Linked DNA regions of Homo sapiens: regions 1, 2, 4 and 5 are each linked to region 3. Evidence: fine-mapped QTL for protein levels in blood plasma. Region 3 holds a variant in brackets. A gene starts in each other region. All regions are shown on their reverse strands. Region 1 holds the start of SCARF1 (scavenger receptor class F member 1). Region 2 holds the start of PLXNB3 (plexin B3). Region 3 overlaps ATXN2 (ataxin 2). Region 4 holds the start of SIT1 (signaling threshold regulating transmembrane adaptor 1). Region 5 holds the start of PAG1 (phosphoprotein membrane anchor with glycosphingolipid microdomains 1).

The links. A credible set is the group of variants that fine-mapping cannot tell apart. PIP is the chance, under the fine-mapping model, that this variant and not a neighbour inherited with it causes the effect. The UK Biobank Pharma Proteomics Project read protein levels with antibody pairs (Olink). The fine-mapping took linkage between variants from a reference panel, not from the people measured, so its PIPs are less certain.
Region 1: SCARF1 starts here. The variant in region 3 is the best candidate, but not a certain one, in a credible set for the plasma level of the SCARF1 protein (UK Biobank, PIP 0.74).
Region 2: PLXNB3 starts here. The variant in region 3 is the best candidate, but not a certain one, in a credible set for the plasma level of the PLXNB3 protein (UK Biobank, PIP 0.75).
Region 4: it holds the start of SIT1, and the variant in region 3 is the best candidate, but not a certain one, in a credible set for the plasma level of the SIT1 protein (UK Biobank, PIP 0.74).
Region 5: PAG1 starts here. The variant in region 3 is the best candidate, but not a certain one, in a credible set for the plasma level of the PAG1 protein (UK Biobank, PIP 0.79).

What each region holds. Positions count from the first base shown.
Region 1 is chr17:1,640,267-1,646,499 of GRCh38, reverse strand. SCARF1 (scavenger receptor class F member 1) reads left to right here and starts at 768. Exons shown (of 11, transcript NM_003693.4): 1 at 768-903; 2 at 1,261-1,322; 3 at 1,565-1,666; 4 at 2,533-3,058; 5 at 5,834-6,052. The coding sequence starts at 803. RILP (Rab interacting lysosomal protein) reads left to right here. Exons shown (of 8, transcript NM_031430.3): 8 at 1-350. The coding sequence ends at 58.
Region 2 is chrX:153,759,658-153,765,499 of GRCh38, reverse strand. PLXNB3 (plexin B3) reads right to left here and starts at 1,251. Exons shown (of 36, transcript NM_005393.3): 1 at 1,196-1,251; 2 at 1-29. PLXNB3-AS1 (PLXNB3 antisense RNA 1) reads left to right here. Exons shown (of 3, transcript NR_199696.1): 2 at 1,651-1,790.
Region 3 is chr12:111,532,803-111,539,056 of GRCh38, reverse strand. All of the region lies in intron 5 of ATXN2 (ataxin 2), which reads left to right. Among named protein-coding and RNA genes, the nearest start is that of ATXN2, 63 kb to the left of the region's middle. The variant T/C (reference allele first, on the strand shown) is at 3,503.
Region 4 is chr9:35,650,664-35,656,796 of GRCh38, reverse strand. SIT1 (signaling threshold regulating transmembrane adaptor 1) reads left to right here and starts at 5,866. Exons shown (of 5, transcript NM_014450.3): 1 at 5,866-6,043. The coding sequence starts at 5,944. RefSeq lists a silencer at 6,086-6,133.
Region 5 is chr8:81,108,967-81,115,220 of GRCh38, reverse strand. PAG1 (phosphoprotein membrane anchor with glycosphingolipid microdomains 1) reads left to right here and starts at 3,153. Exons shown (of 9, transcript NM_018440.4): 1 at 3,153-3,630. RefSeq lists a silencer at 3,018-3,147 and an enhancer at 3,638-3,707.

The DNA of each region.
Region 1 (6,233 bases), not on the chromosome of region 3:
CTGTTCTGCCCTCCACGAACACCTTTGTCTGGGGGCCTCAGCCGCCCCAGAGGCCTGACTTAGGGGTCTGGCTGTGGAAGGATGTGTGGCCTCAAATGAGGACAGGGCTCCCGCCTTCACAGCCCTCGCCAGGGGTCTGCCCCAATCCTGGCCTGCATCAGGGCAGGACGGGGTCTCAGCCCGCCTCCCTCTCTACGTCTCTGTACCGAGCCTCTGGGGCCAGATATAAGAGTGCCTCTCTGAGTCTCAGTTTCCCCATCCATGAAATGAGAGCTGACTGCCTAGCTCCCAGGGCTTTGTGCAGACGGCCTGAGCTCATGTAATAAAGAACTGCCCGTAATACACAGAAACTGTTCCTCGCCTGTCTGTCCATGTCTGTGCCACCTCCCAACCCTGCCAGGAGCAGAGGCAGGCTGAGGGGTCCTCGCTGGTCTCCTTGCTCAGTCACTGGGTGGGGTGGCTTCTTGCAGCTCAGGCCTTGCTTTGGGAGTGTGGCCTGATGGAAAGCCGTGGCTCCCAGCCTCAGTCCACCCCCTTCCCTGGCCCCGGCACCCAGGGACCTGCAACTTCATTCTTCTGGCCCTTCCAGGCCCAGGCCAGTCAGCCCTGCCATTGCCTTTCTTTCCCTTTCTTTTTTTGAGTGTCAGTCTTTCCAGCCACCCCCTCCCTCTCAGGGAGGTGCCTCGTGGCAGCCCGCCCCTCCGGCCTGGTTTCCTCAGGAAAAGCCCTGAGAGGAAGCAGGGAGGGGGTTGGGAGCTGTGGGGGCCAGACGAACCCGAGCGCTCCCACCGAGCTGCCTGCCATGGGGCTGGGGCTGCTGCTCCCGCTGCTGCTGCTCTGGACTCGGGGGACTCAGGGGTCCGAGCTGGACCCCAAAGGGCAGCACGTCTGTGTGGCCAGCAGGTGGGTCTCGTGGGAGTCTGATGCGTGTGGCCAGCAGGTGGGTCTCGTGGGAGTCTGATGCGGGTGGCTGAACCGGTGTTGAGGCCGTTAGGGGAAGGAGGAGACTAGGAAGGGGGCTTAGGCTGAAAGGAAGGGACTGCTGATGGCGGTCTGGCAGGTAGTGGCCAGCCAGGGCAGATGGTGGAAGGGTCAGGGAAGGAGAGGGGAGGGGCTGGGGACCCTAGCTGTAAAGATCCATTAGGCCTCCCCAGGGGGCTAAGGCAGCCTCCCCCACTGCAGCCAGAGACAGTGATCCACCTTCCTCAGGGCCAGGCTGCACCCCCCACCATGTCCGGCTGACCCCTTTTTGCCCCACAGCCCCTCTGCTGAGCTGCAGTGCTGCGCAGGCTGGAGGCAGAAGGATCAAGAATGCACCATCCGTGAGTAGCCAGGACAGACCCTCAGCCAAGGAGAAGGGAGGCCGTAGCCCAGTGACAACCCTTCCTTCCTACCCCATGGGGCCTGCCCCTCCTGATACCAGGAGTCAGGGTTTCTCCTGTGACGCACCCCCAGGCCTGAAGGGGCACCTCTTGAGGAGGCATGGCCCCTGGAGCCAGTGAGAGGGCAGGGGTGTCCCCTGGTCCTGCTCCCGTCTTTCCAACCTGGGTGGGGTGTCTTTCAGCCATCTGTGAGGGGCCGGACGCCTGCCAGAAAGACGAGGTGTGTGTGAAGCCGGGCCTCTGTCGATGCAAGCCTGGATTCTTTGGGGCCCACTGCAGCTCCCGTGAGTCTCAAGGGCCAGATGAAGTTGCTGGGCAGAGCTGGGTACGGGGGCAGTGGTGTGGGAGCAGGCGAGGCAGGTAGCCATGCAGCCTCAGGACAGCAGGGCCAGAATCCCCCCCAGCTTCACTGAGGAATTGCGGTCCAGAGACAGGAAGTGACACACACTCCCGGGAGATGACCTGAGTCACCGGGTTTTTACCCACATCCACAAAGCACTGCCCACCTGAGCATCTTCCTCTTCCACTTCTCAGAAAACCTGTGATTCCCCTTCATTGTAAAATGAGTGTATTACTTGCCTTTCCCACATATACCTTATACATGGGCAGTGGATGGAAGGGGGCCCCTGGCTGGGCTCTCTGCCCTCTCTGGCAGAAAGAGAGGGAAGGGAAAGGGGTTGGGAAGCAGGAGAGCCAGAGGGTGGGCATCAGGAATCAAGGAATCACTAGGGGAAAGGTGGCTTCTCCCGACACCCTGGCGGGCAGTATCCAGGCCTGAGATCAGGAGAAAGCCAGCTCTCCTCCAGCCCAGCAGAGATCCATCTCGGCAGGGAGGAGCAGGCATGGAGGAAGGCCCACCAACCTCGGTGCCACGCTCTGGGCAAGTCCCCTGCCCACTCAGGATCTCTGAGTGTGTTCTGGAATGTGAAGTGGCAGGCTGAGCCTCCCACTAATGGCTAAGGGTTTTCTGTAGGTCAGAGCGGAGCAGGAAGTGAGTGTTGCCCAGGACAGGCTGCCGGATGTTCTGAGGGTCTGTCCCCGGCTCTTGGAGGATGGGCCCAGCGCCCCTTTTCCTTGAGGAAGGGGACGCAGGGTAAGGGTCTGCGCGCGGCCCTGAGCCCGCTGACCCCTCCCGTCCCCACCCCCGCAGGCTGCCCGGGCCAGTACTGGGGCCCCGACTGCCGTGAGAGCTGCCCCTGCCACCCGCACGGCCAGTGCGAGCCAGCCACGGGCGCGTGCCAGTGCCAGGCCGACCGCTGGGGAGCCCGCTGCGAGTTCCCGTGCGCCTGCGGCCCCCACGGGCGCTGCGACCCCGCGACCGGCGTGTGCCACTGCGAACCCGGCTGGTGGTCGTCCACGTGCCGCCGCCCGTGCCAGTGCAACACCGCGGCGGCGCGCTGCGAGCAGGCCACGGGCGCCTGCGTGTGCAAGCCGGGCTGGTGGGGGCGCCGCTGCAGCTTCCGCTGCAACTGCCACGGCTCCCCGTGCGAGCAGGACTCCGGCCGCTGCGCCTGCCGGCCGGGCTGGTGGGGTCCCGAATGCCAGCAGCAGTGCGAGTGTGTGCGGGGCCGCTGCAGCGCCGCCTCCGGCGAGTGCACCTGCCCGCCCGGCTTCCGCGGAGCGCGCTGCGAGCTGCCCTGCCCGGCAGGCAGCCACGGGGTGCAGTGCGCACACAGGTGAGCGGGCGGGGCGGGGACAGGTGGGCTGGCGGGGCGGGGGCGGACACAAGTGAGCAGGCGGGGCGGGGCGGAGACAGGGGGGCGGGGCGGAGACAGGGGGCGGGGCGAAGACAGGTGGGCGGGGCGGACACCGGTGGGCGGGGCGGACACCGGTGGGCGGGGCGGGCACCGGTGGGCGGGGCGGACACCGGTGGGCGGGGAGGGGGCGGGGTGGAAACTGGTGAGCGGGCAGGGTGGGGGCGGGGCGGGCACAGGTGAGCGGTCGGGGGAGGGGGCGGAGGCGGACACAGGTGAGCGAGGCTGCGCGGAGACCTGTGAGCGGGCGGGGCGGAGCGGAGACAGGTGGCCGCGGCGGGGCGCCGGGAGGAGGGGTCAGGGCTTCGCGGTGCTCCTCTCAAAAAACATACAAAGCAGAGGAACGAGAAAGGGGAAAAGTCGGATAGGTGGGGTGGCTCACACCTGTAATCCCAGCACTTTGGGAGGCTGAGGCGGGTGCATCACCTGAGGTCAGGAGTTCGAGACCATCCTGGCCAACATGCTGAAACCTCGTCTCTACTAAAAACACAAAAATTAGCCGGGCTGCGCCTGTAGTCCCAGGTATTCGGTAGGCTGAGACAGGAGAATCGCTTGAGCCCTGGAGGCGGAGGTTGCAGTGAGCCGAGGTCGCACCACTGCACTCCAGCCTGGGCCAGAGAGCAAGACTCCGTCTCAAACAAAACAAAACAAAAACTTTTAAAAACGCTTTGTTGCCCCAGGTCCAGCCTCACCTGCTCATTTCATTGATTACTGCTGTGCAAAATATACTAGCACTGCTAGCAAGCCATATGTAGGTAATAAGTGGATCGAGTCCAACAATGATAGACTGGGTTAAGAAAATGTGGCACATATACACCATGGAATACTATGCAGCCATAAAAAATGATGAGTTCATGTCCTTTGTAGGGACATGGAAGAAATTGGAAATCATCATTCTCAGTAAACTATCGCGAGAACAAAAAACCAAACACCGCATATTCTCACTCATAGGTGGGAGTTGAACAATGGAATCACATGGACACAGGAAGGGGAATATCACACTCTGGGGACTGTTGTGGGGTGGGGGGAGGGGGGAGGGATAGCATTGGCAGATATACTTAATGCTAGATGACGAGCTAGTGGGTGCAGCACACCAACATGGCACATGTATACGTATGTAACTAACCTGCACAATGTGCACATGTACCCTAAAACTTAAAGTATAATAATAAAAAAATATATATAAATATATTTAAAAAAAGAAAATTAAAAAAATGGTTTCTTACAAAAAAAATAATAAATAAGTGGATCGAGTGACCAAGGGTCCTGAGCAAGGTCCCTTTAGGGCTCAGTGGCTTTCAAACTTTGACTGGCTGCACTCACAGTAAGAAATTTCATCCCTGGCTGGGCGCGGTGGCTCACGCCTGTAATCCCAGCACTTTGAGAGGCCGAGGCGGGCGGATCACCTGAGGTCAGGAGTTCGAGACCAGCCTGGCTAACATGGTGAAACCTCGTCTCTACTAAAAATACAAAAATTAGCCGGGCATGGTGTTGGGCGCCTGTAATCCCAGCTACTTGGGAGGCTGAGGCAGGAGAATCACTTGAACCCGGGAGGCGGAGGTTGCAGTGAGCCAAGATCGCGCCACTGCACGCCAGCCTGGGCGACAGAGTGAGACTCAGTCTTGAAGAAAATAATAATAAAATAAAATAAGAAATAAAAATGCTGGTCAGGATCAGCTAAATGGCTTTTATAAACTGCCCTTCTTCTCCCCTACTAATGGGTCTGACCCAAGTATATGATCCCAGCTAGTTAAGCATCTGAGGGAGAAACTTCAGGTAACTATTAGGCATCAATGGGAAATTAAGATATGGCAAATGTGAAATTATATTGGTGACAACAGTGGTCTCCAACCTTTTGGCACCAGGGACTGGTTTCATGGCAGACAATTTTTCTATTATTACACTGTAATCTATAATGAAATAATAATATGACTCACCATAATATAGAATCAGTGGGAGCCCTGAGCTTGCTTTCCCGCAGCTCGAGGGTCCCATCTGGGGGTGATGGGAGACAGTGACAGATCATCAGGCATTAGATCCTCGTAAAGAGCATGGAACCTGGACCCTCCCGTGCGCAGTTCACAATAGGACTGGCGCTCCTATGAGAATCTGAGGCCACCACTGATCTGGCTGGCAGCGGAGCTCAGGCGGTCAGGCTCCCCTGCTGGTCATCTCTACGCTGTCGCCCAGTTCCTAACATGCCACGGACTAGTACCAGTCCATGGCCCAGGGTTTGAGGACCCCTGGGTGAAAACACTTTACATTTTTTGCATTTCGTGTGATGGGGTAGAAGACACTACTGAGTCCCATTCATGCCAGACCTGGGGACGGCTCAGTGTGGAAAAAGGAAAAGTGAAAAGAGCAGGAGGGAAGGCCTGGCAGACCTCGCAAATGGGACTCAGAGCTTGGTGGTGACTCGCCTGCCCTGGCTGGGCTGCTGGCTCCTGATGGTCCTGGGACCCAGGGAAAGACGGTCACAGAGCAGATGCCTGGAAGGAAAGGGATGGGATCCTGTAAGAGCCCTCATTTGTCCTCATTGTACAACGTGGGGAAACTGAGGCTCAAACCTGCCTGACCCAGGTGGGACCCGAACACTCTCCAGGGCCCCCGAAGGCCTGCGTGGAGTACAGGGGTAGGAGGGGGTGGGCGCTCCATCCATCCACCCCCACTGTTCCCACGAAGCCCTTCTCTTCCCAGCTGTGGCCGCTGCAAACACAATGAGCCGTGCTCTCCAGACACAGGCAGCTGTGAGTCCTGCGAGCCGGGCTGGAACGGGACCCAGTGCCAGCAGCCCTGCCTGCCTGGCACCTTTGGCGAGAGCTGCGAACAGCAGTGCCCTCACTGCCGACATGGGGAGGCCTGTGAGCCAGATACTGGCCACTGTCAGCGCTGTGACCCTGGCTGGCTGGGGCCCAGGTGAGGGCACCATTCTGTTCAGGGTGGGGTACACCTTCCCCCAGGACCCTCAGCTCAGCGGCTCTCTCCGAGAGCACCACCCTCCCCGACACACAGGTTCATGCGGCCCCAGGGGCCTCCCTCCTGTTGAAGACTGGGGGAGAGCAGTGGGTTCTGGGGGGGCCTGGGCAGGATCCCAGCT
Region 2 (5,842 bases), not on the chromosome of region 3:
GCATGAGATGGCTGCGGGGGGGCATTGTCCTGAGTGGGAGGGAGACAGTCGAGGCTCAGCCCCATTCGAGCTGGCCTGGGGAAGGAGGGGCGGCGGTGGGGGTGGCGCCCAGGGCCTAGCGACCGGGCTCCCTCACAGCTGGCAGCTTTGTCAATAGTGGCCAGGCCAAGGCAGCCCTGCCTCCACCACAACAATGTTCCCTCTGTCCAGAGGCCAGGCCAGGGCCCCACTCGCTAGTGCTGTCACCCCCACTGGGCTGTTCTGGACAGGGGGCTCCTTGCCACTTCCCACCCTCAGGGAGCCACCCCCGGGATCCGGGGACAAAGGGCCGGGGTTTCCTCCAGCCAGCCCTCCCCCTCTGGCCCTGCAACCCCTGTGTCACTAAGCATGCCCCTCCCTGGCTCCCCGGGTCCCTGTGAAGGGCACGGGGTGGACCTTGGAGCCCCTGCAAATGCCGGCTGGTAGCCTTGGGGCCTGGGTGAAGTGCCAGTCCTGGCCCTCAATGCCTGCCTTTGTCCAAAAGATCTTCCTCCACACCCCCAGCCCAGCCCTGCCCCTGGGGACTGGTGAAGTGGTGCCAGGTACAGCATGGTGGCAGCGAGCAGGACCACGGGAGGAGGCTGCTTGAGATGGGCTGAGGCAGAGGGTCCACAGGCCGGGGCTGTCCACCCCACCCTCTGAAGCACCGTCCTGCTGGCCTAGATGCCATCCATGCAGGGGATGGGGAAGGGAGGGGCACCTAGCAGCTAGACCCCCTGTCACCCTCACAGGCCACCCTGGCCAGTGGCACAGGAGCAGGTGCACTGGGGATGGGGTCTCTGCCTCCCCCACAGCACGGCAGCAGTAGGCTCCAGGGCAAGGTGGCAGTGGGCTGCTGTCACCTGGCTGGGCCAGTTGGGTGGCTGTGGGGGTGGGGAGCCAGGCGGGCAGCCTCTCTACCCTGTACCCTGCCCGAGGCTGGCGTTGGCTTTCCCATTTCGGGGAAGAAACATGGTTCCCCACCTCCTAACCCCAGGGCTACCACTTGGGGGACACCGTGCTCCCAGACACCTAGTGCCGTCGTCAGGCTGGGCCGACACCCGAGCGCTCTTGCCTGACCCCAGCCAGTTGGCCCTGAGACCCTGATGCCTTGCCCTGAGGCTGGTAGCCCCTGCACCCCAAGCCCAAGCCCAAGCCTGCCCCAGCTCTTGCCTACCTGGTGGGCCACCGGCGAGGGCCAAGTAGCAGCTGGCGGTGCCAGGAGCACGTCTCACAGAGCCCCAGCCTCCCTCCCCACAATGCAATCGTGCCCAGTCCGACTCATCCCAACAAGCCCGGCCAGGCAGCCCAGCCTCTCTCCGCCCGCCCCTTTGCCCAATGGCACAGGGCAGGATGTTGCTGCCCTCTGCTGGCCGCAGCGGGCATGATGGAGTACTGACCGTGGGCACCTGGCAGGTGAGAGACGGCAGCGCCCTCCTATTGGGTGGGCATTCCATAACCTGGCACGAAGCACCTACTGGATGCCAGGCTTGGGCTTGGCACTGGCACCATCCAGAAACAAACACAGGTTGGGAAACTGAGGCACAGGAGGTTAGGAAACTTGAATAAAGTCACACAGCTAGTATGTGGCAAGGCTGAGTCAATCACAGGGCCCCTTCACTTAACCGTCAGGCTACATGACCTTGAACCATGAACCTTGGCAGGCGTTGGGCAGGAGATGGAGCTGAGGCCTACCCCAGGCCAGGCCTGGACGTGACATGCCCACGTGGCGTTGAGGAAAAACCAGTGTTTCCCACCGACTGGAACACAAGGTTGGTCAAGGGCCGTCTCCCAGGGTGTGGCGGAGGTCAGCAAATCAGGTGGGGTCTTTGTGGCCAGGCTTGAGAACTTGAACTTGTCTCGCCATGGGCAACTGCAAGCTGGTGGCACTGGGGCAGAGAATGTGGGGAGGCCTGGTCCAGTGGTGGTCATGGGCATGGAGAGAGGCGGGCGCGTTCTAGAGGCGCTCTGGGGAGGCAGCATTCTGAAGACTGTGCGTTGGACCCAGGGCAGGAGGCGAAGGCAGGAGAATCCAGGCGACCCTGGGGCTTTTCTGCTGGGGCACTGTTCCCCCTGTGGCAGGGCCATCCACAGAGGGGCTGGCGGAAGTGGGAGGACGGTAAGACTGAGGGGCCCATGAGGGAGGAGGAAATGGTGATGGGGCTGGGGAGGCCTGGGGGTGAGAAGCTTGGCTCAGGTGGCTGGAGCCCTGGGGGCGGCCAGGGTATAGGGCCAGGTGTTGGCCCTGGAGCTCAAAGGCCCAGCAGACTCGGGGTATGGGTGCTTCCCTGAGCAGCTGTGTCATTCTTTCCAACCTGCATGGAGAGAAATGGGGCACAGAGGTGGGTAACTTGCCCAGGGCCATGACCTGACGTCGTTTCTTCAGAGTGCATTCCACAGAGATGGGATTTGAACCTGGGCATTCTGGCACGGGCCACGCTCTGGACCACTGGGCCCCAGATCCACAGCTTCTCACCTGCAGCCGCTGAGGATGTGGAGGCAGACCAGGCAGGCCCGTGGGAAGGACCACCAAAAAGCGAGTGAGCAGCCGGCGAGGGGTCTCTCCCCAACAGGAAGGCCAGGCAGCCTTGAAGGAGCCAGGGAGGGATTTAGAAGCTCCAGGAGGGGAGGCTTGGGGGAGCCAGCTGGCCTCTCTCCCTCTCCCTGTCCTTCCCCCCATGCCTACCCCAACACACACACACATGTCCTTGCTGGCCCCGGATGAGACAGACGCCTGCAATCTGGCATGGGGAATGGGTTTCTCCTTCCTTTCCACAGAAGAAAATAAATCAGGCTGGGCGTCGTGGCTCCCGCCTGTAATCCCAGCACTTTGGGAGCCTAAGGCAGCAGGATCACTTGGGCCCAGGAGTTCTAGACCAGCATGGGCAACATAGTGAGACCCCCATCTCTATAAAAAAATTTAAAAATTAGCCAGGCATGGTGGTGCGAGCCTGTAGTCCCAGCTACTTGGGAGGCTGAAGTGGGAGGATCGCCTGAGCCTGGGAGTTGGTGCCTGCAGTGAGCCGTGATGGTGCCATTGCACTCTAGCCTGGGTGACAGTGCAAGACTCTGTCTTTAAAAAAAAAAGAAAAGAAAGAAAGAAAAAAGAAAATAAATCCATCCACAGGCAGCACCATTTTCATAAATATGTGTGTATATGGCCTGCATATGCACCTTCTACGCTTTCTGAGCAGATAAGAGGCGTGGCTATGGCAGCCCCTGGTCTGAAGCTGGTGTAACCAGAAAGGATCTAGGCTGGTTTGGGGAACCGGAACATCTTATGTCAGGGGAGTCGTGCTGGATTTATCCTGCAATGGCCGGGTCCCCTCACCAAGGGATGGGAAGGCAGCGTCAACTGATCTGGTGTCGTCTCCTTGCTGTGTGCCAGGCTTCTCAATGCTGGAAGGGGACTCGTTGGGTCAGTGGGACGTGGGCTTCACGTTTGCTGGGCTGAAGACGTAGCTCTCCATGCTGGCATCCCAGCGGACACCCCCACTGCCACTGCTGCACCACGTCTTCACGTACACCAGAGAGCAGACTTGAGAGTTTCTGCGCATACAGTGGGTGTGAAATGGTGCCCTGCTGGGTTTTGAATCGGCATTCCTTGACCACCGGCCATATTGCAGCACTTTTCATTTCTTCTGTCAAATGCCCGTGCATGTCTTGGCTTACACTTTGCAGGTGTTCTGTATTTTCCACACCAATCCCTGGGGTGTATGTCTTCGGCCTACCTGTTACTTGTCTTCTCAGTTTGCTGATGTATCATGTGATAAACAGAAAGTCTTAATTTTAATATCATAGCATTTATCAATCTGATTTCTTTTTTTGAGACGGGGTCTCGCTCTGTCGTGCAGGCTGGGGTGCATTGGCGCAATCATGGCTCACTGAAGCCTCCTGGGCTCAAGTGATCCTCCCACCTTAGCCTCCCAAACACCTGGGACTACAGGCAGGCGCCACAGTGCCTGGCTAATTTTGTAATTTTTTTGTAGAGACAGGGTCTCGCTATGTTGCCCAGGCTGGTCTCAAACTCCTGGACTCAAGCGGCCCTCCCGCCTTGGCTTCCCAAAGTGCTGGCCCGTGAGCCTGTGAGCCACTGCGCCTGGCTACCTTCTTTTGAATTCCCATTCAGACTGTGTGTTGCTGGTACATAGAAAAACAATGGATTTCTATGTATCAAGTAACCTTGTAAACTCTCATATTAAGTCTAATAATTATGTTTGGGTTCTCTTTGTGGATTCTTTTTGATTTTCTGCGTACACAATCCTATCATCTGCAAGTAATGACCATTTTGTTTCTTCTATTCCAGTCTTTTTAGCTTTGATTTCTTTTTTTGAGGCAGAGTCTGGCTCTGTCACCCAGGCTGGAGTATAGTGGCACAATCTTGGCTCACTGCAACCTCCGCCTCCCTGGTTCAAGCAGTTCTCCTGCCTCAGCCTCCCAAGAAGCTGGGACTACAGGCACCCACCACCACGCCTGACTAATTTTTGTATCTTTACCAGACACAGGGTTTCACCATGTTGGCCAGGCTGATCTGGAACTCCTGATCCACCTGCCTTGGCCTCCCAAAGTGCTAGGATTACAGGCGTGAGCCACTGTGCCCGGCTGATTTCGTTTCCTTGCTTTACTTCCCTGGACTTGCTTTCTCTTGCTTTTACTTCCTTTGAATGAAAGCATAGGAGGCGCTGGGCATGGTGGCTCACGCCTGTAATCCCAGCACTTTGGGAGGCCGAGGTGGGTGGATCACCTGAGGTCAGGAGTTCGAGACCAGCCTGACCAACATGGAGAAACTCTGTCTCTACTAAAAATACAAAAAAATTAGCCGAGCATGGTGGCCCATGCTTGTAATCCCAGCTACTTGGGAGGCTGAGGCAGGAGACTCGCTTGAACCCAGGAGGCCGAGGTTGCGGTGAGCCAAGATCGAGCCATTGCACTCCAGCCTGGGCAACAAAAGCGAAACTCTGTCTCAAAAAAAAAAAAAAAAAAAAAAAAAAAGCATAGGAGGCATTCTCAGTGTTCCATTATTAAGTATGATGTTTGCAGGGAGCATTCGGTAGATATGTTTATCAGATTTAGAAAGCTCCCTCCCATTCCTAGTGTGCTATATGTTGAATTTTTATAAAATGCTTTTTCTGAATGCATTAATATGATCACAGGGTTTTCCTCCTCTAATCTGTTAATGTGGCAAATTACATTAATTCATTTTTAAATGTTAAACCACTCTTGTATTTTCTGGACTAAACTCAACTTTGCGTGATGTATTTTTTTCATATACAATTCTGGATTGGGTGGTTTTTTTTTTTTTTTTTAGCCTCGTATTATTATCCTCGTCTGGTTTTGGTATCAAGACATCGTAAAGTGAGTTGAGGCAGTATTTCCTTTTTCAGCTGTTCACTGGAACAGTTAGTCTAAGATGGAGATGATCAGTTACTTCCATGTTTGCTGGAGATCATCTGTAAAACCATCTAGGCCTTCCTTGTTTTTTATTTTCTGTTTTTTGTTTTGTTTCTTTTCTTTTCTCTTCTTTGTTTTTTTTGTTTTGTTTTGTTTTGTTTTGTTGTTGTTTTGAGACAGAGTCTCACTCTGTTGCCCAGGCTGGAGTGCAGTGGTACAGTCTTGGCTTACTGCAACCTCTGCCTCCTGGGTGCAAGCGATTCTCCTGCCTCAGCCTCCCGAGTAGCTGGGACTGCAGGCATGCACCACCACGTCCAGCTAAGTTTTGTATTTTTAGTAGAGACGGTGTTTCGCCATGTTGGCCAGTCTGGTCTTGAACTCCTGACCTCAGGTGATCTGCCTGCCTCGGCCTCACAAAGTGCTGGGATTACAG
Region 3 (6,254 bases):
ATTGGAATCTTTTCTAAAACTTCTTTTGATCTTTTTAGGAGATAGTGTGGGAATCAGCAATCTAGTATTACGTACGTGGAATCTGTCACCTTGTTTTTTTAAATACAGCAAACCTCATGAAGTGAATTTCCATATTTTTTCTTGTTCTTGTTAGTTTTGCACCACTCAGGCTTTGCTGTAGAATTTGATGTATATTTGATTCTGTAGAGCATGGGCTATTGATCTTCACTCAGCTTTCAGAGGAATCTGATTAGTAAGTTTGAGTTTTTTATTATTTTTTAGTTGATTTTGAAGTAAAATACAGCACCATTTTAACTGATACCATTTCTAAACAATTTTCAGTTCAAATTTTAAGTTAGCTAATTTAGAGCTTAAGAAAATTGCTTTAAAAACATAAAATTACTGGCTGGGTACAGTGGCTCATTCCTGTAATCTCAGCACTTTGGGAGGCCAAGGCAGATGAATTGCTTGAGCCCAGTAGTTCAAGACCAGCCTGGGCAATATGGTGGAACCCCGTTTCTACAAAAAAAATACAAAAAGTAGCCAGACACGGTGGTATGTACCTGTAGTCCCAGCTATTCGGGTGGCAGAGGTGAGAGGATCATCTGAGCGCAGGGAGATTGAGGCTGCAGTGAGCCAAGTGAGACCCTGGTTTCAAAAAAAAAAAGGTTACTAATTGCAGTGCCTTTTATCTTATTTAATGGGCTTAGTCAAACTAAGATGATGTATTTTATCTTATAAATGTTTTCCCTTGAATTTTAACTGAAGAATCCAATTTGTACCTCTCACAAACAGAATGTATTAGTAAGGAAAATAAATACTGCTTTTTATTACTTAAATAGGATATATTTTTCTCTTAGGGATTTTTTTTCTATTTTATCTCACTTTATCGTAGTGCTAGAAAATTTAATCATTCATTTGAGATAGGGAGAAAATTAGGTTTTTTTTTTTCTTCTATTTTGAGACAGGGTCTCATTTTGTTGTCCAGGCTGGAGTGCAGTGGCGCCATCGTAGCTCACCATAACCTCAAACTCATGGGTTCAGGTGATTCACCTTAGCCTCCTGATTAAGCTGGGACTGCAGATGTGTATCACCACTCCTGGCTAATTTTTGTTGTTATTTTTTGTTTGATGAGGTCTCATTATGTTGCCCAGGCTGGTCTCAAACTCTGGGCCTCAAATGATCCTCCTGCCCCAGCCTCCCAAAGTGCTGGGATTACAGGCATGAACCTCTGCTCCCAGCCCATTTTTTAAAATATATTCACAGCATTGTGCAACCATCACTACAATCAATTTACATTTTCATCACCCTGAAAAGAAACTCTGAACCCCTTAGCAGTTCCTCTCTGTTTGTTTCAATTTTCCCCAGCTCCAGGCAACTATTGATTTATTGTCTTCATAGGTTTGCCCATTCTGGACATTGCGTATTAATGGAATCATATAATATATAGCCTTTTTTTTTCTTTTTTTTTTTTGAAACAGAGTCTCACTGTGTCGCCCAGGCTGGAGCGCAGTGGCATGATTGCAGCTCACTGCATCCTCTGCCTCCCAGGTTGAAGCGATTCTCCTGCCTCAGCCTCTTGAGTAGCTGGGACTATAGGCGCCTGCCACCACACCTACTAATTTTATATTTTTAGTAAAGACGGGGTTGCACCATGTTGGCCAGGCTGGTCTCGAATTCCTGACCTCAAGTGATCTGCCCACCTCGGACTCCCAAAGTGCTGGGATTGCAGCCATGAGCCACCGCATCTGGCCATATATATTATGATAGGCTTGTTTCACTTAGTATGTTTCTTCCATGCTGTAGCATGTATTAGTACTTCTTTCTTTTTCATGGCCAAATATTCCATTATACAGTTACACAGGTACACTACATTTTGTTTATTCATCAGTTGGTGGACATTTTCATTGTTTCCACCTTTTGATTTATACATAATCCTGCTGCGAACAGTGACTTTTAAAGTTTTTGTGTGGGCCGGGTGTGGTGGCTCATGCCTCTGTAATCCCAGCACTTTGGGAGGCTGGGGCTGGCAGATCATTTGAGGCCGGGAGTTCGAGACCAGCCTGCCCAACATGGTGAAACCCTGTCTCTACTAAAAATACAAAAATGAGCTGGGTGTGGTGGCGTGCACCTGTAATCTCAGCTACTAGGGAGGCTGAGGCAGAGAATCACTTGAAGCTGGGAAGCCGAGGCTACAGTGAGCCGAGATCACGCCACTGCACTCCAGCCTGGGTGACAGAGTGAAACTTCATCTCAAAAAAAAAAAAAAAAAAAAAAAACTGCGTGTGGACATAGGTTTTCAATTCTCATGGGGGTGTGTGTGTATGCATACTCATACATACATACACATACCTGCAAGATAATTGCTGGCTCGTATGCTAAATCTATGTTGAACCTTTTACATAACTGTTGGGCTGTTTTGTTTTCTTTTTATTATTTTTTGAAAATAGAGTTGGGGTCTCACTGTTGCACAGGCTGATTTCCTGGGCATAGTGGCTGTATCATTTTACAATCCTACATAGCTGTTTCCAACGTAGCTGTATCATTTTACAATCCTACTAGCAGTGTCTGAGGTTTCTTATGTTTTTCACATCCTCACCAGCATTTGTTATTGTCTGTCTCTTTGATTATACCCATCCTAGTGGGAGAGTAAGAAGTAGTATCTCACTGTAGATTTTTTTTTTCTGTTTACAACTTTACTTTAAAAATTATATATGCACACATGGTAAAAAGTTCAAAACGTGTGTACCAAAAGATTTAACAGTGAAAATAGAAAATAAGTGTGGTCCTTGTTTTCTTCCACCAAGGCAAATATTGTTATAATCTCCTAAACAACTTGTCTTCCAGATTTCTCATTTTCAGTCAATCTTGGGCATTGACATAAAGAAATTCTTAGACATTGCTTTTATTAGATCATCTCATCCCTTGCTCAAAATCTTCAGTGGCCACTGTTGTTTACAGAATAAAGTTGGGATGCTATACAGGGCCCTTCCCAGTGGAACTTCTCTTTTTCAACCTTATCTCTCATTATTTCCCAATGTTTTTTTTTTTTTTTTTGAGACGGAGTCTCGCTCTGTCGCCCAGGCTGGAGTGCAGTGGCGGGATCTCGGCTCACTGCAAGCTCCGCCTCCTGGGTTCACGCCATTCTCCTGCCTCAGCCTCCCAAGTAGCTGGGACTACAGGCGCCCGCCACTACGCCCGGCTAATTTTTTGTATTTTTAGTAGAGACGGGGTTTCACCGTTTTAGCCGGGATGGTCTCGATCTCCTGACCTCGTGATCCGCCCACCTCGGCCTCCCAAAGTGCTGGGATTACAGGCGTGAGCCACCGCGCCCGGCCTATTTCCCAATGTTAATCTACTTATTGACCTACTAAGCTGGCATGTTCTGTGTGTTAGACATCACCAACTTTGTGCCTTCTTTTTTTGTTTGTTTTTGAGTTGGAGTCTCACTCTGTTGCCCAGGTTGGAGTGCAGTGGCGCGATCTTGGCTCACCACAACCTC[T/C]GCCTCCCGGGTTCCAGTGATTCTCCTGCCTGAGCCTCCCGAGAAGCTGAGACGACAGGCGCGCGCCACCATGCCCTGCTAACTTTTGTATTTTTAGTAGAGATGGGTTTCACTGTGTTTCCCAGGCTGGTCTCGAACTCCTGACCTTGTGATCCACCTGCCTTGGGCTCCCAAATTGCTGGGATTACAGGCGTGAGCCACCGCGGCCCCCTGTGCCTTCTTCTTTTACTCCTGGATTTAATCCCAACGTGAAGAATCTACCTTACTAACTAGAGTTTTAGATACTTTTTCAAAACCAAGCCCACATCTGTCCTTTTTAGAGTCTTCTCTGACCTTCCCTGCTCATTGTGGTTTGTTTTTATTGCCTGTAACAATGGCTGTTAAACTTTACATTTTAAATTAATTTATGTTTGTATGTATTTATTTGTTGAGAAAGGGTCTCTCTCTGTCACCCCTACTAGAATGCAGTGGCGCCATCATGGCTTACTGCTTCCTGGGCTCAAGCTGTTCTCCCATTTCAGCCTCCCCATGCACCACCCTACCTGGCTAATTTTTTTGTTTGTTTTTTTTAGTTTAGTTTTTGTAGAGACAGATGTCTCACTGTGTTGCACAGGCTGATCTTGAACTCCTGGGCTCACTTGATCCTCCCATCTCAGCCTCCCCAAGTGCTGGGATTACAGGTGTGAGTCACCATGCCCAGACTTTAACATTTTCTTTTTAGTATAGAATAGGTCAGTTTTTTTCCCTCTGATGAGATCCCATGCTGACTCTTAGTTAAAACAAGGCTTTGGTTGGAAGAAGAGCTAGTGATGTCCTAGCTCCCTACTTACTCCACTTTCCCTTGCCTTCTGGGGTGTCCTGAAGACATCATAGGGTGTCATGAAGTACAGTTGGAGAACCAGTGGTCTCCATCATGTACCAAACACTCATCTTCACGAAGCAGTATGTAGTGTCTTTTTTACCGGTATATTTTCTCTCTCCCAATGCATTAAACTTTTCTGGAGTTCAGAAAACAAATTTATAGAATTAAGGAAATGCGTCCCCCCCAACCATGGTGTCTAGTATATATACAGTGACTTACAGATAACAGGTGTTCAACATATATATATTCCTTTGATTGATTTTTGAAAAGTTTACATGTATATATTTTTTATATACGGGGTCTCACTCTATCACTGAGGTTGGAGTGTGGTGATGCAGATCTTGGCTCACCGCAACCTCCTCCTCCCAGGCTCAAGTGATTCTCCCACCTCAGCCTCCCGAGTACCTGGGACCACAGGTGCGCATCACCATGCCTGGCTAATTTTTTATATTTTTGGTAGAGACAGGATTTTGCCGTGTTGCCCAGGTTGGTTTCGAACTCCTGAGCTCAGGCAGTCCACCTGCCTTGGCTTCCCAAGTGTGAGCCACCACTGAAATACTTATATTTTTAAACTTAATTTATTTATATTTATTATATTTTTATGTTTTTATATTTTAAAAAATATTTTTATACTCACTAGACCCAATTTTATACTCCTAAACCAGGGAATAACTGTTTTTTTTTCTCTTACATAGGCATGATACCATAGACAATGATTAAAATTGTAATTACCATTCATTTCTTAGTTTTGTGGCTGGGACACTGATGTCTTCAAATGTTAGTTTGCAAATACAGTCAGCCCTCTCTATCCATGGGTTACACAGCTGTGAATTCAACCAACCATGGATCCAAAATATATGGGAAATACGCTGGGGCTGTGGGTCACACCTGTAATTCCAGCACTTAGGGAGGCTGAGGCAGATGGATCACCTGAGGTCAGGAGTTCAAGACCAGCCTGGCCAACATGGCAAAACCCTAGCTCTACTATAAGTACAAAAAATTAGCTGGCCATGGTAGTGCACATGTGTAATCCCAGCTACTCGAGAGGTTGAGACAAGCAATTTGCTTGAACCTGAGAAGTAGAGGTTTCCATGAGCTGAGATTGTGTCACTGCACTCCAGCCTGCGCAACAGAGTGTGAGAAGAAAAGAAAAAAAACTGTCTGAAAAGAAAAAAAAAAATTATATGGGAAATCAAAAGCATCTATACTGAACATGTACAGACTTTTTTTCTTGTCATTATTCCTTAAGCAGTACCACAACTATTTCCGTAGCATTTACTTTGTATTAGGTATTATAGGTAACCTAGAGGTTTAAAGTATGCGAGAGTATGCAAATACTACACCACTTTGTATCAGGGACTTAAGCATCCCTGGATTTTGGTATCCCTAGGGGGTATTAGAACCAATCCCCCATAGATGCTGAAGGACAACTGTAGTGTGTGTTGGAATAATTTATTTTCAAATGGATCATTTGGAGAACACTATTCTTTAGGAAACATAGCCTCCTAAGTTCTGTTCCATACATCCCTTTCACCTCCACGGCGTTGTAGCATCCTGCTTTCATGACTGTGTCATCACTCGGAAGGAACTGCTTCTCTTCCAGAATGCTTTTCAAGATCTACTCTGACCACAGCTATAAACTTTACACTTCTATTCTCTTCTTGCCCCTCACAGTGTTCTCTGTTCCTCTAAGATCTTAAACTCTGTCTACTCCTAATCCAGCCTGCTGGGTGTGGCTGGAGAAAGTCCCACTGGGGGGCTGATTAGTTAGGAATGTAGGGTTTCCAGCTCTTGCTGGAGCCTCAGAAGAGTTCAGCAGACTTTTTTTTTTTTTTTTTTCCTTAAACCTATTTCTGCAGCCTTGATGACCACTCCTTCCAGTCCCTCACC
Region 4 (6,133 bases), not on the chromosome of region 3:
CCTTTTTGGCATCAGGGACCGGTTTCGTGGAAGACAATTTTTCCATGGACGAAGCGGGGTGGAGGGATGGTTTCCGGATGAAACTGTTCCACTTCAGATCGTCAAGCATTAGATTCTCACGAGGAGCGTGCAACCTAGATCCCTCCCATGCACAGTTCACAATATGGTTCGCGCTCCTATGAGAATCTAATGCCGTGCTCATCTGACAGGAGGCGGAGCTCAGGCGGTAATGATTGCTGGCCCCACTGCCCACATCCTGCTATGTGGCCCGGAGCCTAACAGGCCACAGGCTGGTGCTGGCCTGTGGCCGGGTGTTGGAGACCCTTGAGCTAGGCTGGTCCTAAATTCCACAAGGGCAGGAGCCACCTCTCTTTTTTCTTTACCATTTTACTCCCAGAGCCTAGCACAGCACGTGGCGCCTGGCGATAGCAGGCACTCAATGAATCGTTGTTGAATGAAATTAATGAATGGTTAAAATGACCCAAAAGGGTAATATAGTTAAGCTCTTTCAAAGAATGAGGCAACTGCAATTCAGCAAGGTTAAGTATGCTACTAATCAGGTAAGAGGCAGGGTGGTGATTTCACCAGTTTTTTGCCTGTCTCTATACCTTCTGTCGAACAGCCTTTCCCCATCCTTGTCTTCCATGACTTCACCAGGCAGGCAGGTATTCCTTCTGTTCCACAGAGCCTTCCATGGTCTCTTAATTGGGATACACTGGGTCATCTGTCTAGTTAGATCAAGAGCTCCCTGACATGAAACCATTTCCATTCATCACATTTTTATCTCCAGAGCCTGGCATACAAACAGGCAATCAGTACATCATGTGTGTTAAATAAATGAATGAAGCCAAGATCGGTGGCTTATGCCTCTAATCCCAGCACTTTGGGAGGCCGAGGCAGGAGGATCACCTGAGGTCAAGAGTTTGAGACCAGCCTGGCCAACATGGCTAAATCTCGTCTCTATTAAAAATAGAAAAATTAGCCGGGTGTGGTGGCGGGCGCCTGCAGTCCCAGCTATTTGGGAGGCTGAGACAGGAGAATCACGGGAACCTGGGAGGTGGAGGTTGCAGTAAGCCGAAATCGTGCCACTGCACTCCAGCCTGGGCAAACGAGTGAGACACCGCCTCAGAAAAACAAAACAAAAACAAAAATTAACCAGGTGTGGTGGCCAGCACCTGTAATCCCAGCTATTCAGGAGGCCGAGGCATAAGAATAGCTTCAACCTGGGAGGCGGAGGTTGCAGTGAACAGAGATCGCGCCACTGCACTCCAGCCTCAGTGTCAGAGCAAGACTCCATCTCTAAATAAATAAATAAATAAATAAATAAATAAATAAATAAATGAAATATGGGTGTGTCTTCTTGTTTTTCCTGAAAGGAGGAGGAAGGGCAGGACAGGGAGAAACCCTCACCAAGGGGAGTTATCATAGTGTAGTTCAAGGGTCCCCAACACTATTGGTCCATGGCCTGTTAGGAACTGGGCCGCACAGCAGGAGGTGAGCAGCGGAGGAGCAAGGGTGAGCGGCGGAGTAGCGAGGGAAGCTTCATCTGTATATACAGCCACTCTCCATCCTGGCATTACCGCCTGAGCTCTGTCTCCTGTCAGATCAGTGCAGTGTTAGATTCTCATAGGGCCACGAACCCTATTGTGAATTGTGCATGCACGTGATGTTGTGGGCTCCTTATGAAAATCTAGGCCAGGTGCAGTGGCTGATGCCTGTAATCCCAGCACTTTGGGAAGCCAAGGTGGGTGGATCTCTTGAGGCCAGGAGTTCAAGACCAGCCTGGACAATATGGTTAAAAAAAAAAAAAAGTCTCTAATAAAAATACAAAAATTAGCTGCGCATGGTGGCGCATGCCTGTAATCCTAGCTACTTGGGAGGCTGAGGCATAAGAATTGCTTGAACCCAGGAGGCGAGGTTGCAGTGAGCCAAGATTGCACCACTGCACTCCAGCCTGGGTGACAGAGCGAGACCCTGTCAAAAAAACAAAACAGAACAAAAAAACCACAATACCTGATGATCTGAGGTGGAACAGTTTTATCCCAAAACCATCCCCTCCTCCCATACTCCTGTGCATGGAAAAATTGTCTCCCACAAAACCTGTCCCTGGTGCCAAAACGGCTGGGGACCAGTGGTCTAGCTGATGACCCAGTGACAGCCTGGGTACGCAAAGCAGGGTAATAGAAATCTTGAATCTAAGCCAGTTGGCACAGTCGGTGTAAATAAGGGGTTCAGGCCAGATATAATAATGATAAGTGGTCCCCAACTGATTATTGCCTTTAGAGAACTCAGGGCACTATTGCCAGATCTTTTTTTGAAGGAATCAACAAATTAGAATTTTAAAAATTTGAAATCTCCCAATTTTTAACTGTTGACAAGGAATCAGTGGCATACTTAGCATATTTGACACCAAGTGGTCTTTGTGTGTGTGTGTGTGTGTGTGTGTGTGTGTGTGTGTGTGTGAGAGAGAGAGAGAGAGACAGGGTCTCCCTCTGCTGCCCAGTCAGGAGTGCAGTGGTGAGACCATGGCTCACTGCAGCCCCAAATTTCTTGGATCAGCCTCCTGAGTACCTGGGACTGCAGGTGCACACCACCATGCCCAGCTAATTTGTGTGTTTTTTTGTTGTTGTTTTTTGTTTGTTTGTTTGTTTGTTTTTTGTAGAGACCAGGGTATTGCCCAGGCTGGTCTTGAACTTCTGGCCTCAAGGAATCTGCCTGCCTCAGCCTCCCAAAGTACTGGGATTACAAGTGTGAGCCACCTTGCCTGTTCCGGATCATTTAAAAAACATTTTTCTTTCTTTTCTGTCTTTTTTTTTTTTTTTTTTTGAGACAAGCTCTCACTCTGTTGCCCAGGCTGGAGTGGTGCAGTGGCACAATCATGGCTTACTGCTGCCTCTATCTCCCAGGCTCAAGCAATCTTCCCACTTCAGCCTCTTAAGTAGCTGTGACTACAGGCACACATGCCCCCATGCCTCGCTAATTTTTTAATTTTTTGCAGAGATGGGAATCTCACTATGTTGGTTAGGCTGGTCTCAAACTCTTGGGCCCAAGCTATCCTCCCACCTCAGCCTCTCAAAGTGCTGTGATTACAGGTGTGAGCCATCACACCTGGCCCAAATTTTTCTTTCTTTCTTTTTTTTTTTTTTTTTGAGATGGAGTCTTGCTCTGTCGCCCAGGCTGCAGTGCAGTGGAGTGATCTTGGCTCACTGCAGCCTCCACCTCCTGGGTTTAAGCAATTCTTGTGCCTCAGCCTCCAGAGTAGCTGGGATTACAGGTACCTGCCACCATGCCCGGCTAATTTTTGTATTTTTAGTAGAGACGAGGTTTCACCATGTTGACCAGGCTGCTCTCAAACTCCTGACCTCAGGTGATCCACCCACCTCAGCATCCCAAAGTGCTGGGATTACAGGCGTGAGCCACCATGCCCAGACCCAAATTTTTCTTGTTTTCTTTCTTTTTTTGGGGGTGGGGGGCAGGGTCTCACTCTGTTGCCCAGGCTGGAGTGCAGAGGCTTGATCTTGGCTCACTGAAACCTCTACCTCCTAGGCTCAAGCAATCCTCCCACCTCAGCCTCTCGAGTAGCTGGGACCACAGGCGTGCACCATCACACCTGGCTAATTTTTTGTATTTTTGGTAAAGACGGGGTTTTGCCATGTTGCCCAAGCTGTTCTTGAACTCCTGGGCTCAAGCGATCCTCTTGCCTCACCCTCCCAACGTGCTGGAATTGCAGGCATGAGCCACCATGCCTGGAACAAAGTTTTATTTTTCAAGTGGATCATTTAAAAAAATGCTTTATGGCCAGGCACGCCACTTCTCTCCAGCCTGGGCAAGTGAGCCGAGATTGTGCCACTGCGGTCTGGTCTGAGCGACAGAGGGAGACTCCATCTCAGATAAATAAATAAATAAAATTAAAACAAATTTAAACATTCTTTATATGACAAAATTATTCTCAATGGCAATTATAAAATGAATAATAAGGGCCAAGAAATAAACTCAGTGAATATTTTCTTTCCTTGAACTTTGTAAATATAATCATGTCAGCATAAAAACAGCCATGCATTGCTTAACAACAGGGATATGTTCTGAGAAATGAGTCACTAGGCAATTTTGTCATTGTGCAAACATCATAGAGTGTATTTTCACAAACCTAGATGGTGTAGCCTATTACCCATCTAGGCTACATGGTATAGCCTGGTGCTCCTAGGCCCCAATGCTTACAGCATGTTACCATACTGAATACTGTAGGCAGTTGTAAGACAATGGTATTTGTGCATCTACTGTAGAGACAGGGTCTCTCCGTCTGTCGCCCAGGCTGGAGTGCAGTGGCATAATCATAGCTCCCTGCAGCCTCCAACTCCTGGGCTCAAGTGATCCTCCCACCTCAGTCTCCCAAGTAGCTAGGACTACACGCTTGTGTCATCAGGCCTGTCTACTGTTTTTGTTTGTTTTTTGGTAGAGATGGAGGGTCTCACTATATTGCTCAGACTGGTTTTGAACTCCTGGCCTCAAGCAATCCTCCTGCTGCCTTGGCCTCCAAAGTGCTGGTATTACAGGAATGAGCCACTGCACCTGGTCCACTACAGCAATTTAAAAGTTAGATCTGGGCTGGGCGCAGTGGCTCATGCCTGTAATTCCAGCACTTTGGGAGACCGAGGTGGGCAGGTTGCTTGAGGTCAGGAGTTGAGACCAGCCTGGCAACACAGGGAGACCTATCTCTACAAAAAATGAACTAGATTAGCTGGGTGTGGTGGCACATGCCTGTAGTCCTAGCTGCTTAGGTGGCTGAGATGGGAGGATCACTTGAGCCCGGGAGATCGTCAAGGCTGCAGTGAGCTGAGATTGTGTTACTGCACTCCAACCTGGGAGACAAAGTAAGACCCTGTCTCAAAAAAAATATAAAACTTAGATCCATAAAATATTTTTCAGGGAGGATAATTTTATCACTGATTTTTTTTTTCAGAATTTCTGGAACATGGTGATAATAAGAGGACTGATTTTTATTTTTTAAATTCTCTACAGACAATGCACCCCCTTATTGCCTGCAACTCAAGGGGCAGGACTTCTGCCATCCCTATTGTTGGCATGCCACTGCACTGATTTTAAACTTTTAAAAAATGTTGTATGGGCTAGACAAAACACATCTCTGACTTCTGGTCTCAGGTTTATATTTGCAACTTAAAATCCCTCTTCCTACATCAATAGCCTTGCACGTGATGGAGTTAGCTCTAGGTATGGCAGGTACTACACCCGCTGAAGTGAACATGTGCAAGATAGGGCTCAGTTTCCCAGGACAGTCCTACAGCAAAGAGTTTTAAAATGCAATTAATTATTGAGAGTGACAGTTCTTACAGACAGTTTGGATGAAGTGGGTTGAAAGGGGAGGTTTGGGGGTGTCCCCCAAATTATAATGCCCCCAATGAAACAATAACAAGCATCATCTAAACACATATCCTCTCAGATCAGCCTTAGGGTGTGATGGGATCAGAGGTACCAGGAGGCTCCCCCGACCCTTCCACTTTATACCATACTCATTGAGGAATACATCTTTCTTCTGGGACCAGAGTCAGGGAGGAAGGTGGGCATCCTGGAGCAGAAGGGGTGTTCCTGTCCTTGTTAGTCCTGCTTCACACCACTTCTGCCCCCACCCCCCGCCCTCAGAGTCCTCAGGGACTCAACTGCCCGTGGCACATTACCCACAGGCCTGCTTCTCTTCTCAAGGGGGGCAAAGGGCCTGGGCAGCGAGGGTGGGGGAAGCTCAGGAGCTGCAGGAGTGGCGCAGGTGCAGGCACAGGGCGGGGTCTTTGTTCTTTTTTTCATCCCTCCCCTCCCCCTTCCTCCCCGGAAACCAGAGACTTTGCCACCACCAGTATTGGGGATGCTGAGCTGCGGGGTACGGGCCTGAGGAGGGATGGGAGTAAGAAGTGCTGTGGAAACCGTCAGGCCATGAACCAGGCTGACCCTCGGCTCAGAGCAGTGTGCTTGTGGACTCTCACATCTGCAGCCATGAGCAGAGGCGACAACTGCACGGATCTACTCGCACTGGGTGAGCTGGGCAGGGCAGGGGCTGGTGGGGGAGGGGTCATGTGGCCCCAGGTCCCACCTGCTGGGCCCTGGGGGTGGGGCGGGGCTGTTA
Region 5 (6,254 bases), not on the chromosome of region 3:
TGTATTAATTTTTATGGCAAGCTTATTTTTCACCAAGTGGCATCTAATTCCTTCCTCCCAACTGTCTCACTCTTGCTAGTCACCTTGGACTCCCCACAGTTCTCTTATCTGGACTGTGTCTATGAAGTAAGTGAAGATTTTCATGTCAAAGAATCCCTTTGAGTGAAATGGATGAAGAAATGTAATTAATAAAGGTGGAGAATTTTTGAGCCTAAGCTTTCCAGCTCAGTTGGTAAGCCTGTGATTTTTAGCAGAAAGACTTTAATAAAAATCTATCCTAGGTACAGTTTCTGCATGAGGGAAGAATAGTTTCAGTGGAGTCATTAGTGTCTATATAATTGAATATCTCACTACTAGGACTTTTAGAGGCATTGAAGGAAGGAATTCTCAGCCAAAGAGTAGGCCTTGCTGACCCATAAGGAATACAGACCTCAGAGAAAAAGATGTAGCTGCGATTTCTGCCAGACAATCAATAGCAGCTGATGTGAAATAAATTCTAAATACAGACACAGTCAATATCAAGACACAGTCAATATTAAAGCACAGTCAATATAGTATCAAGACAATATTATATATTTCATGTATTTAATGCCAATAACAATGGTTCAAAATTCAATAGCAGTAGGACACACCAATTAATAGTAACTTTTTATTTAATTAAATCTTGGATCTCTTGAAATCAATATACAAATGAATTATGTAAATATTTTGATTGAAATGTCGGGCACCTAAGAAAACAATGACAACTTTGGGTTCTTCTAAAGGTCCCAACATGACTATTCTGCTACCTTCATATTTAAAATATATATATATTTCTTATTAAAAACTGAAGTAAGTTTTACAACCTGTGATGTACCAGCTCCTTCAAAGAATTCTTTTTTCTTAGGAATTAATTTCATAATCACACCGAAGAATGGCTGTAATGGAAGAGTTAGATAAGAAGTAAAGATAAAGGCAGGTAGACCACAGTTGGCAGTGTAGCATTCCCAGTCAAACCTCTGGATTAGAAGACTGTATATAACTATCACATACTTGCTTCCAAAACATTACTCAGACCGAGAGTATAGCCCATAGCATCTACCACAAGCACAAGAATTGATCCTGACACTTTTGGTTCTCTATCTAGGAGTGGCTTTGAAATACATTTGAGTTCCAATTTACTGATGGCAAATCCTGATATGAAAAATTTGGAAATGAAAAACAATCCTCAGCATGTTACTTGGTGAAAAGAGAGCAGAGGAAAAGGACAGAGGCTAGAGATTGGCTCCTGCCTGCATTCGTGAATTTGTCTAAATCACTTAGCTTCTGAGCCTGGGTAAAATGAGGATGGTAATTACACTTGTCACCAGATAACGTGAATATTGCCCTTCAAACTCCTCAATGAAGCCTGCACTGTGGAACTGCAATGTCCTAGGACCGGGTTGCTCTTAGAACATTTTGTTCTAAGTGTATCCTAACAAGTGTAGCAAAACTGGAAGACACAAAATGTATTTCCTCCCCACAAGAATGAAAGCCTTCCTAACTCCAAATTTAGGCACAGCCTGTAAAAGATGTGACTAGTAAACACAGAAACCATTTGCTTTATAAGGTCTAAATTGTCCTCTTCTCCAGAGTTGTAGAAGCCAAGTCCAACACGGAGATCCCTACTTTTATTCAAGTTCCACCATTAGTCAACTCATGTCCAGGATGTCTTCTTTAATATATAAAATGGGGATACTTTTTTATATTATTATTCAACTTAAGAGACCACTGTGAAATTTCAGTGAGGTAACGTATGTGAAATGTTATACTCCATAAGTTCTTAAACACCTGAGTTTCATACCATGCTCTGAAGCAAGAGGCCAAGTCTGGTTCCTGGGTCCGCTTCCCCAATGGGCTTTTCCAAGCTGTAGGCTGAGTCTAAACTGTTTCCTCCCACATACCCTTCCCTCTGCGACACACTAACAACATCCCTTACTCCATCACTGTCTTCCTTACCCTCTCCTGATGAGCCTTCTTCCCCAGCCACCTTTAAGCTCCCATTAATGATATGTGTAACGAGTGTTCAATAGAGTGTGTGTGTGTATATTTAATGCCATTTATATGTTTTTTCTTGCTAAGTAATGCATCATAATTTTAGAAAATTGGGACTAGTCAGATAAAGCACCCGTTGGTTTAGAATCCCTGACTCAAAGTCAGATGTCCTGAGTTCTAGACTTGGTTTGTCTCCTTGTAAGTGCAAAAGTTTATTCCCAATTCCAGGTTGCTAGTGTAAACTTGAAGTTTGGCCCAAACAAAACCCCTATCAGATTTATTTAGAGTGTTGATGCCAAATGGAATTCTAGAAGCCCACCTTTGCCAGGGGCTGAGCCAGAACCACTATCACTGGGGGTACGGCCTGGGCATTTGTTCTGCGTTTTTTATAAGCCCCTCGGGTGACTGTCAGACAGGCCAACTGTTTCAGAAGCTCTGCTCCAGGCTCTAGATCACACGTTAAGTAGCAAGGATGGGGGTCTGGACCTCCAGTATTGGCATCCTCCGAGAGCTTGTTAGAAAGGATGTCTCCCTCATTATCCCAGGCCTACTGAATCTGAATCTTGCATCTCATCACAATCCGCAGGAGATTCTGTCACACACTGAGGGTTTGAGAAGCACTGCTGTACCTTGGTATCTTTAGATACCTACTGATACCTGGGTGGGCCCCACCCAGACATTGTCCTGTACTTGTTCTGGGATGCGTCCGGGGCAAAGGGTTCTTACAAGCTCCCCAAGTTATTTTAATGCACAGCCACAATAGAAGATCACTGTCCCCCAAATGGCAACCCTTTACGGTTAAGCTGTAACCTGAATTAAATTGGCTTTTGTGGGCTCCCCAGGGACCTTAAGGACCGCTTAAACGGTGCTGTTTAAAGGACAATGGGCTCCTGGGACAAGTTCAACCACAGAGCTTTGGGTTCATAAAATCAGGGCAGGGAAGACTTCCTGCATCCTCCCGCGAGCAAGCCAGGCCCCGCGCCGGTCCTCACCCGTGTGCACCCCCAGCCCGGCCCCGCCCGGCTCGCCCCCTCCCGCCCCGCGGCCCGCCCCTCCTCCCCCGTGACGTGCCGCTGCGGCCAGGATCATGCGCACTCGCGCCCCGCTCCCCGCGCGGCTGCTCCGCCTCGGCGCCTGTCATTCTCCGCGGCGCGGCGGCGAGTGCTGGCTGCGGTACCCTCCCGCTCGCTTGTCCGTCTGCGCGCCCGCGATGTGACCAGCCGACTGGGGGCGGGCTGGCGGCTCTGCCTGCGGCAGCGCATCGGTTTTTCTCCTGGCAGGTCCCTAATTGAGCCGTGATTCCCTTGGAGCCAGAGACACCCACCAGGGGCTCGGAGCGCCGCGCTCCGGGGCTGGAGGCAGCTGCAGCGCTCGGGTCCGCGCGGCCGGGTGCAGTAGCCTCAGTCCCAGCCGCCGCCTCGCTGAGTCGTGTGCCCTGGCGAATGCCCGGCGCCCGGCACAGCTGAGCCAAGGCGACTGGTGCAGAGCGGCGGCGCCTGGTCCTGCACTTGCCGCTGCTGCCGGGCTGTGCCGGGGCGGCGGCGCTGCGCGCCGGAGTTTGCAGAGGCTGCCTCCGAGCGCCGTCCGCCAGGAAGACTCCCTGCCTCCTGAGTCCCAGTAAGTTGACTGTAGTTTCTGAAGTTGGAGGGAGCCGTGGGAAGGAGAGGTTCGTTTTTATCTTCTTGTGGGAAGCCGAGGGTGGCACCTCTTGTTAACAGAGTTCCAGCTCGAGGAGGGAGTGCGGGGTGCCAAGAAGGGGACAAGGCAGCTGGAAGGTCTGGAGTCCAGGGCTGGCTGACCTCAGCATCTCACGAATGTGCCAGTTGGAAATATGCTGGGAGAGGACAGGTACTCCTAGGGCATTTCGACTGCTGCGTGCTAATTATTCATTCCAAGCTCCTTGACTCTGTGTTTACGTTGGGGTGAAGGGGCTGGGCAGGGTCTTGTCACCTCCATCCTAATTCCTCTGGGGAGTGTGGCCAGCACTGCGATGGATCTTTGGGCGAGCCATTTCTTTCAGGCCTGCAGGCTTCCCGCGCATCCCGCTTTACTCTTCCCCTAGGCAGAAGTTGCCAACCTTTTCATAATTGGAGCCTAGTCCTTTAGGGAAAAAACAACTTATATGTCGACCCGGTGTTTTATGCCCTAAGGCAAATAAAACGAGCTCTGGGCGTGTGAATTCATACACTTTAAGAATGTAGGCAAGTCTCAAGAAATAGGATTCAGATAATGACACTTGGATTTCACCCTGATTGTCCTGCACCTCTTATGTAAGCCTCCCGGCTGGATAACTTTATCTCTGCAGTGGCTGCAGCTGTGGCCCTCCATTCCATTTGTTTAAAGTCCAATTGAACAGTATTTACTGAAAATGCTGACATGATATAGCGGCCTGAAGTCTGAAACAGAGTGCACTCTTCAAATTGGAGTGTCTTCTCCTAATAGGGAGCATGGGAGGAACAACCCACTATATTTTTCAAGGCAGCTCCAGGAATTAGACCCATAAATCATGTTTTAAAATAGCATGCATTGTGCAGAGAGCATGCAGAGGACCGCTTTTTGAACACATCCCCTTTGTTTTAGAAAAAGTGGAAATTGTTCATGCCAGACAATTGTTGAGTCTAAAAGTTAAGTGTACTGATGGGCCTAATTATCTTAATAAACAAAGAGCATGATTTATAGGTAGCTGCAGTGCCCTACTTTGAAGGATAGAAATCTTTAACCTTTCTTTCTCAGCTGTTCCCGAGAGATTCCTTTTAAGCAGAGCTATGGATTATCATCATTGATGTTTAATACCTGAGTTGGTTAAACTTGTAAAAGGAATAGTACTTTGAAGTACCATGCAGTACTGCTGTGTGACTGTTACACAGCGAATATTATAAATAAGAGGAATATTTGGAGTATTGGGTATAGATGTCATTAGTTTAACAAAATAGGTCATATTAAGACTTTCCTGCTAAATATATATACACATACATAAATGTTTAATTTGGACTTGAAATTATTGTTTAAACCAAAGCTCAGGGGTATGTTTTAATGTAAGATTTATTTACATAATCTTTGAAGAGAGAAGTGCATTTATTTATGGTATTTCAGCATGCAGAACAAGATGAACTAGTTATAGGCACCTTATTTAAAGTGTAAAGGGTTTTTTTTTAGGAATACTAAGAAAATACACAAAATGTTATTTCAGAAGTTGAAAAGTTAGTCACATCAACACATTGCGGTTTGTGAGAGCATCCAGTGCTTATCTCTAGAAGAGATTACATCCAAGCATGGAATCTCAAACAGATTGACCCATTAAGCCCTATTGCAGCCTGGTTAGGAGGACAGGCTATGGAGCCAGGCTGCCAGCTCTGGTACCATCTGTTTGAATCTAGGCAAGTAACCCAAAGTCTGTGCCTCAGTGTCTTCATCTGTACAATGGGGATGACAGTAGTAGTACCTACCCCACTGAACAGTAGTGAGAATTAAATGAGTTCATAGACATAGAGCTGTTGGGCCAGTATCTGGCATATTAAGCTTGTTCTGGGAAAAATTTTCATTGTTATGAAAGGAAATGCATCTTTGGACTCTATGGACATTGAATTGCTGCTATGGACATTGAATTGCTGCTGATGAATATTAACAGAAGCAGTTCATGTGTATAATAGGAGAGAAGGTATAAACATTTATTGTGCACTGTCTAGCGATACAGACACCAACTGGTATTTAACACTGTCTTGCTCAATTCCCCACCACAGTCCTTTGAGGTAAGTGGCTTCATCTCTACTTTAGAGATGAGAAAATGGGAGCTCAGTGAGATCAAATAGTAGAAATTGGAGCTGGCATTTAACCCACGTCTGTCTGTGTTGAAACTGTGTTCTTTTTGACCCTGCTGCCTCAACTTGCAAATGAAGTAGTTGCATTATTATCCTCAATTTATACATGAAGAAATCTAAGCTTAAGGATTAAAGTATGCAAAGTGCTTAACAGCACCCACAACAGAAATGATCATAATTATTGTTAAATAACTTGCCCATGCTTCCATACCTCCTAATGTGTGGTAGAGGTGCCAGGTCTTTCAATTTGAAGTGGATTCTGTTGCTTTATTATTTTTCTATTCATGCATTCAGAGAGTCAAAAAAGAAAAATTGGTGTGATGTTAGAGTTTACACTGGAGGGTGGTGGTCTCCATTTGGTTTCCTGCCTGCACGTGTAGCTGCAGCAATCTACACAGTCAAGGAAACCACCACGGCAGCAGT